Linked DNA regions of Homo sapiens. The protein of the gene in region 2 purifies or fractionates together with the protein of the main gene of each other region. This does not show direct contact. Each region holds a gene or a part of one and is shown on either strand. Other genes may lie near its edges.

Region 1 (3,657 bases), on a different chromosome or scaffold from region 2:
TTTGTTGTTTTGTTTTTTCCTACATTAACAAATTGTTTCTGCTGAATTAGTCATATCTAAGACACGAAGAAGTCAAAATTAATACAAGGGTTATTTTCTCCCCAATTCTATGTTAGATGAACACCTTTATTCAACTACCTAAACAAAATTAATTCATGTTTTATTCTGTTGTTCAAGATGAATATTACTGTTTTCCAGGAAGCCTTAAAAATTGAGTGCCTAAGAAAACTGCAGATTTACTGTTACTCAAAACTCACTCTTCAATATGATAATCACAAAACACCATAAAAAAAATCCCTTTTAAACTGGATATGAATGCTGCCTGTAATTTTTAAATGTTGTCTTTACTTTTGAAACAGAAAAGATAATTTGGGAAGAGTACGAGGCCCTCGTTACAACGAAACACTGTGCTAAAAGGTAGATGTCAGAAAATAAATGAGTTTCATCCGGGACTTCTGTGCCAAAGGTTTAACAAGCAAATACTGACTGTCTAAAACATCAAAAGTAATCTTAATAATCATGGTATTTTCGAGAACACTTTAATATTCTTACTTTTACCACTAAAACAATTTTAAGAATATTTCTACCAGAGAAATCTCGAAAGGGAGAGACTTACTAAACTACAAATAGCAAGTATAAATTATTAAACAATTATATTCAAAATAATTATTAAAATTCATAATACTAAAAATTCAATGCAAAAAATCTGAAGAGGGGAGAGAATTACCTTTAACTTTGAGTCCAAGTAACTTTTGGCGTTCTGGAAGAACTCCTGTAAGGGTCTTGAGAAACTGTTTGAGATCGAGCACAGTATCATCTTCTGAAAGTGTGGTCACTGAATACTCCTGTCCACCCCATTTTACAATGATAGGGAGAGCCATTCTTGAAACATATGAGGAAGCAGCTTTCCTTCAGAAAAAAAAATACCTGGAAAGGAAGACAAAAATGAACAAGTTAAAATAGATACTGTTTATTGAAGCCAAACTTTTAAGTTTTATGTGTACAGTTTAAGCCTTATTTTACAACTTATGATAGAGAGGATTTTTGTCCATACAGGAGTGCTACCAGAACACCAAAAGATACTAGGACTCAAAGTTAAATTCCCCCACACTCCTAATTTTTGGCTTAGAGTTACTACTTTCTAATACTCTGAGTCTCACTGTTCAACTGGAAATGTGCAATTATGAGCTACCATTCCTCCTGTTCTATTTGGTCAGGTTGATGCTACAAGCAAGTCCTTCCCTGACAGACCATCCATGTTCATTTAACATTTGAAAGGTAGTGTGGTGTAGTTAAGAACACAGATTCTAGAGCCAGATGACCTGGGTTCAGATCCCAGATCTCTCCCACTTAGCCATCTGACTTTGAGAAGTTACTTGACTCTCAGTGTCTAGGTTTCCTCATCTGTAAAATAGGGATGATGATACTACCTACTTCTTAGGGCTTTTATGAGGATTAACTTAATTAACATTTACAAGGTACATAGTGCCTGGCACCTAGTAAACACTACATAAATTAAGTATTGGTTAAACAAAAATCTTTTTAAACTAAAAGCTTACTATGTTCCAGGCAGGCACTGTGCTAAATAAATAGTAAATAGCCATTCTTTGTTTCATATTTTATGAATTGAAGTTTTTACACAATCTCATTAGAGAAAGTAATTTGGTAAGTTTTCCCTCTTTTACAATTAAGGAAACAGGAGTTTTGAGAGGCTATACAATCTGTACATAGACACATAGCTAGTTACAGAACAGGTCTTCTGACTAAATCTTATGTTTCTTCTCCTCCACAATTGTATCTCTTCAGTTGAACATACAAGAGTTAAGGCATCAAAGATCAGTGTATTAGTCTGTTTTCACACTGCCAATAAAGACATACCCAAGACTGGGAAGAGAAAGAGGTTTAATTGGACTTTACAGTTGCAGAATGGCTGGGGAGGCCTCAGAATCATGGTGGAAGGCAAAAAGCACTTCTTACATGGCAGTGGCAAGACAGAATGAGGAAGAAGCAAAAGCGGAAACCCCTGATAAACCCATCAGATCTCATGAGACTTATTCATTGTCATGAGAATAGCATGGGAAAGACCACCCCCCAAGATTCAATTACCTTCCCCTGGGTCCCTCTCATAACACATAGGAATTATGGGAGATATCATTCAAGTTGAGATTTTGGTGGGCACACAGTCAAACTGTACCATTCTGCCCCTGGCCCCTCCAAATCTCATGTCCTCACATTTCAAAACCAATCATGCCTTCCCAACAGTCCCCCAAAGTCTTAATTCATTTCAGCATTAACTCAAAAGTCCACAGTCCAAAGTCTCATCTAAGACAAGTTAAGTCCTTTCTGCCTATGAGCCTGTAAAATCAAAAGAAAGCTATTTACTTCCTAGGTATAATGGGGGTACAGGTATTGAGTAAATATAGCCATTCCAAATGGGAGAAATTGGCCAAAACAAAGGGGTTACAGGGCCCATGCAAGTCCGAAATCCAGCGGGGCAGTCAAATGTTAAAGCTCCGAAATGATCTCCTTTGACTCCAGATCTCACATCCAGGTCACACTGATGCAAGAGGTGGGTTCCTATGGTCTTGGATAGCTCCACCCCTGTGGCTTTGCAAGGTAAACCCTCCCTCCCAGCTGCTTTCACGGGCTGGCATTGAGTGTCTGTGGATTTTCCAGGCACACAGTACAAGCTGTTGTCAGATCTGCCATTCTGGGGCCTGGAGGGTGGTGGCCCTCTTCTCTCAGCTCCACTAGGCAGTGCCCCAGTAGGGACTCTGTATGGGGGCTCTGACCCCACAATTCCCTTCCACACTGTCCTAGCAGAAGTTCCCCATGAGGGCCCCACCCCTGCAGCAAACTTTTGCCAGGGCGTCCAAGAGTTTCCATATATCTTCTGAAATCTAGGCACAGGTTCCCAAACCTCAATTCTTGACTTCTGTGTACCCACAGGCTCAACACCATATGGAAGCTACCAAGGCTTGAGGCTTCCACCCTCTGAAGCCACAGCCCAAGCTGTAAGTTGGCCCCTTTCAGCCATGGCTGGAGTGGCTGGGATACAGGGCACCAAGTCCCTAGGCTGCACACAGCGCGGGGACCCTGGGCCGGGCCCACGAAACCTTTTTTCCTTCCTGGGCCTCCGGGCCTGTGCTGGGAGGGGCTGCCATGAAGGTCTTTGACATAGCCTGGAGACATTTTCCCCACGGTCTAGGGGATTAACATTAGGCTCCTTGATACTTACGCAGATTTCTGCAGCCAGCTTGAATTTCTCCACAGAAAATGCGTTTTTCTTTTCTACTGCATAGTCAGGCTGCTAATTTTCCAAACTTCTATGCTCTGCTTCCCTTATAAAACTGAGTGCCTTTAACAGTACCCAAATCACCTCTTGAGTGCTTTGCTGCTTAGAAATTTCTTCTGCCAGATACCCTAAATCATCTTTCTGAAGTTCAAAGTTCCACAAATCTCTAGGGCAGGGGCAAAATGTTGCCAGTACCTTTGCTAATACATAACAAGAGTCACTTTTACTCCAGTTCCCAACAAGTTCCTCATTTCCATCTGAGACCACCTCAGCCTGGACCTTATGGTTCATATAGCTATCAGAATTTTGGGCAAAGCCATTCAACAAGTCTCTAGGAAGTTCCAAACTTTCCCACATTTTCC
Region 2 (2,794 bases):
CAAGACCTGCCATCTGCCAGTGCTCACACACCAATCTCTCTAGCCCTCAGTACAGTCCTGCAAGAGGGGGGTCATGAGGCCCATTCCACAGATAAGGAAACTGAGGCCCAAAGTCTGGGCATGCTGCGTTGCTCTGGGAAGGTGATCTGCAGGGTAAATGGAGTGAGGGCAGGGGGCCGAATGGGGAGAGGCTGGGAGCCGAGGAGGTAGGAGTCATTGTGCCCTCAGAGCCAACCACCTGATTTCTGCATCTGTCAAATAGTAATAGCCCCTTCCTATGCCTCAAAGGATTTTTTTCAAGAATGAAACTGTAAAATTCACTTTAAAGTGACATGATCCGTTCCCGGAGGGACAGGGGAATCCCCAGTGCACCATACACCAATAACCCCTGCTAAGGCAGCAGTATTAATTGCTCAACCTTCCGCACCTGTGCACTAACTGCTCACGTTGTTCCCACCCTACCCCACCCAGGACTATGCTGTGGGGTACATGTTGAGGCTGGGGGCTCCTGCCAGTAAGCTGGTGATGGGCATCCCCACCTTCGGGAGGAGCTTCACTCTGGCTTCTTCTGAGACTGGTGTTGGAGCCCCAATCTCAGGACCGGGAATTCCAGGCCGGTTCACCAAGGAGGCAGGGACCCTTGCCTACTATGAGGTAATGGAGTTGGGGAGAAGGTAGGATTCCCCCACACCACCAGCAGCCCTGGGGAAGGTGATTCCCCACCACGTTCTTGCTTTTTCTCCTTTGGGAATAAAGAAAATGTCCGGTTGCCCCAGCATGCCTGAGGAAGTGGAAGGGAGAGGTTAGGACATTTGTTGCTGAAAATCTCCAGCAGGTACAGGCACATGGGCCTGCACCACTAGGCACCTGGGATAGCCCTCTGGCTATGGGGCTGAGGTCTTCCTTCCAGCCCAGGAAAGAGCAGAGGTCAAGAGGCAGATTTTTTGTTTCACTCTAGCCTCTGCTACTCTGTGTGGCCTTGGGCCTGTCCTCAGTGTCAACCAGCAGGCCTCACATCTCTGTTTAAATGGAAGAAGCTAAGCAGGGCCAAGGCAGCCACCATCTCTGGGTCATTTGCCTCTGGTTTGTATAAACTTGTGTGATGCATGCAGCCTGCAGACCCTGCAGAGAGTGAGGCTGCAGGATGGAGCAGGAGCTAAAAGAGATTTGGAGAGTGGCGTCTCCTGGTGACCTGCAAGGTCTCGGCACGACTCCCCACACTGCCTTTTCCCTGTTATCTGCTCAGATCTGTGACTTCCTCCGCGGAGCCACAGTCCATAGAATCCTCGGCCAGCAGGTCCCCTATGCCACCAAGGGCAACCAGTGGGTAGGATACGACGACCAGGAAAGCGTCAAAAGCAAGGTAGGTTTCCCCAAGGCCACACCTCAGGACAAAGAGAAAGAAGGAGGCCCCGCTCCCAGCAGCCAGATTCCTGTCCCTTGCACTGAGGTCTGGGCTGGGCTCACAGAGCACATGTGCCCTGTACACACTCTGGGTCAGGGAACCCAGCCCTGCTCCTCTGGGCCTCCCCTGCCAGGTGCAGTACCTGAAGGACAGGCAGCTGGCGGGCGCCATGGTATGGGCCCTGGACCTGGATGACTTCCAGGGCTCCTTCTGTGGCCAGGATCTGCGCTTCCCTCTCACCAATGCCATCAAGGATGCACTCGCTGCAACGTAGCCCTCTGTTCTGCACACAGCACGGGGGCCAAGGATGCCCCGTCCCCCTCTGGCTCCAGCTGGCCGGGAGCCTGATCACCTGCCCTGCTGAGTCCCAGGCTGAGCCTCAGTCTCCCTCCCTTGGGGCCTATGCAGAGGTCCACAACACACAGATTTGAGCTCAGCCCTGGTGGGCAGAGAGGTAGGGATGGGGCTGTGGGGATAGTGAGGCATCGCAATGTAAGACTCGGGATTAGTACACACTTGTTGATTAATGGAAATGTTTACAGATCCCCAAGCCTGGCAAGGGAATTTCTTCAACTCCCTGCCCCCCAGCCCTCCTTATCAAAGGACACCATTTTGGCAAGCTCTATCACCAAGGAGCCAAACATCCTACAAGACACAGTGACCATACTAATTATACCCCCTGCAAAGCCCAGCTTGAAACCTTCACTTAGGAACGTAATCGTGTCCCCTATCCTACTTCCCCTTCCTAATTCCACAGCTGCTCAATAAAGTACAAGAGCTTAACAGTGTGTTGGCGCTTTGCTTTGGTCTATCTTTGAGCGCCCACTAGACCCACTGGACTCACCTCCCCCATCTCTTCTGGGTTCCTTCCTCTGAGCCTTGGGACCCCTGAGCTTGCAGAGATGAGGCCGCCATGTCCTCTGCCTAGCCGCAGAGAGCCCCAGTGGGAGGCCAGCGTCCTCAGATTCACCTGCCTTGGACTTAACCCAAGCATGGCTGATGGCCTTCCAAATATTAAAGTCATTGCCATCCAGATTTCTAAATTAAATTCCCTGTTGAAAGAAACGTTTTCTGTTTCCTGAAGGCTAGCAGGCCCTGGGAAAGAAGGCTTTTCATCCCAACACTCCCTCTCTTCTGATCCACAGGAAGGTGGTGGGAGCTCATCACAGGACCAGGTTAGAAAGCCCTGAACCCTGGACCCTCAGGGCCAGCAGGAAATGCAGATGTCATCTCATGCACCCTTCCTGCCTCTCGGGACTGGAGTCCCTGCAGAGTGCTTGAGAGATGGCCCTCCAGCCTCCCAGTGAGGGGCAGCCGATTACCTTGGAAGCAACCCATTCCGTGGCTGGGCTGAAATCTGTCAATAGTCCTAGTGCTGGGCTTAGCCCT

What was found. Proteins that work in one complex are often made in the same cells at the same time.
Region 1: the proteins of CHI3L1 (region 2) and UBLCP1 purify together in Homo sapiens (affinity purification with mass spectrometry; one large-scale study listed by BioGRID and IntAct). This does not show direct contact.

The regions. Positions count from the first base shown.
Region 1 is NC_000005.10:159,266,140-159,269,796, reverse strand, and holds part of UBLCP1 (ubiquitin-like domain-containing CTD phosphatase 1), read right to left. Parts: intron 928-3,657; 5' UTR 882-927; coding exon 728-881; intron 1-727. UniProt on the Homo sapiens protein: Dephosphorylates 26S nuclear proteasomes, thereby decreasing their proteolytic activity. Recruited to the 19S regulatory particle of the 26S proteasome through its interaction with 19S component PSMD2/RPN1.
Region 2 is NC_000001.11:203,178,330-203,181,123, reverse strand, and holds the end of CHI3L1 (chitinase-3-like protein 1 precursor), read left to right. Parts: intron 1-471; coding exon 472-654; intron 655-1,246; coding exon 1,247-1,363; coding exon of another isoform or gene 1,364-1,538; coding exon 1,539-1,679; 3' UTR 1,680-2,193; downstream 2,194-2,794. UniProt on the Homo sapiens protein: Carbohydrate-binding lectin with a preference for chitin. Has no chitinase activity. May play a role in tissue remodeling and in the capacity of cells to respond to and cope with changes in their environment.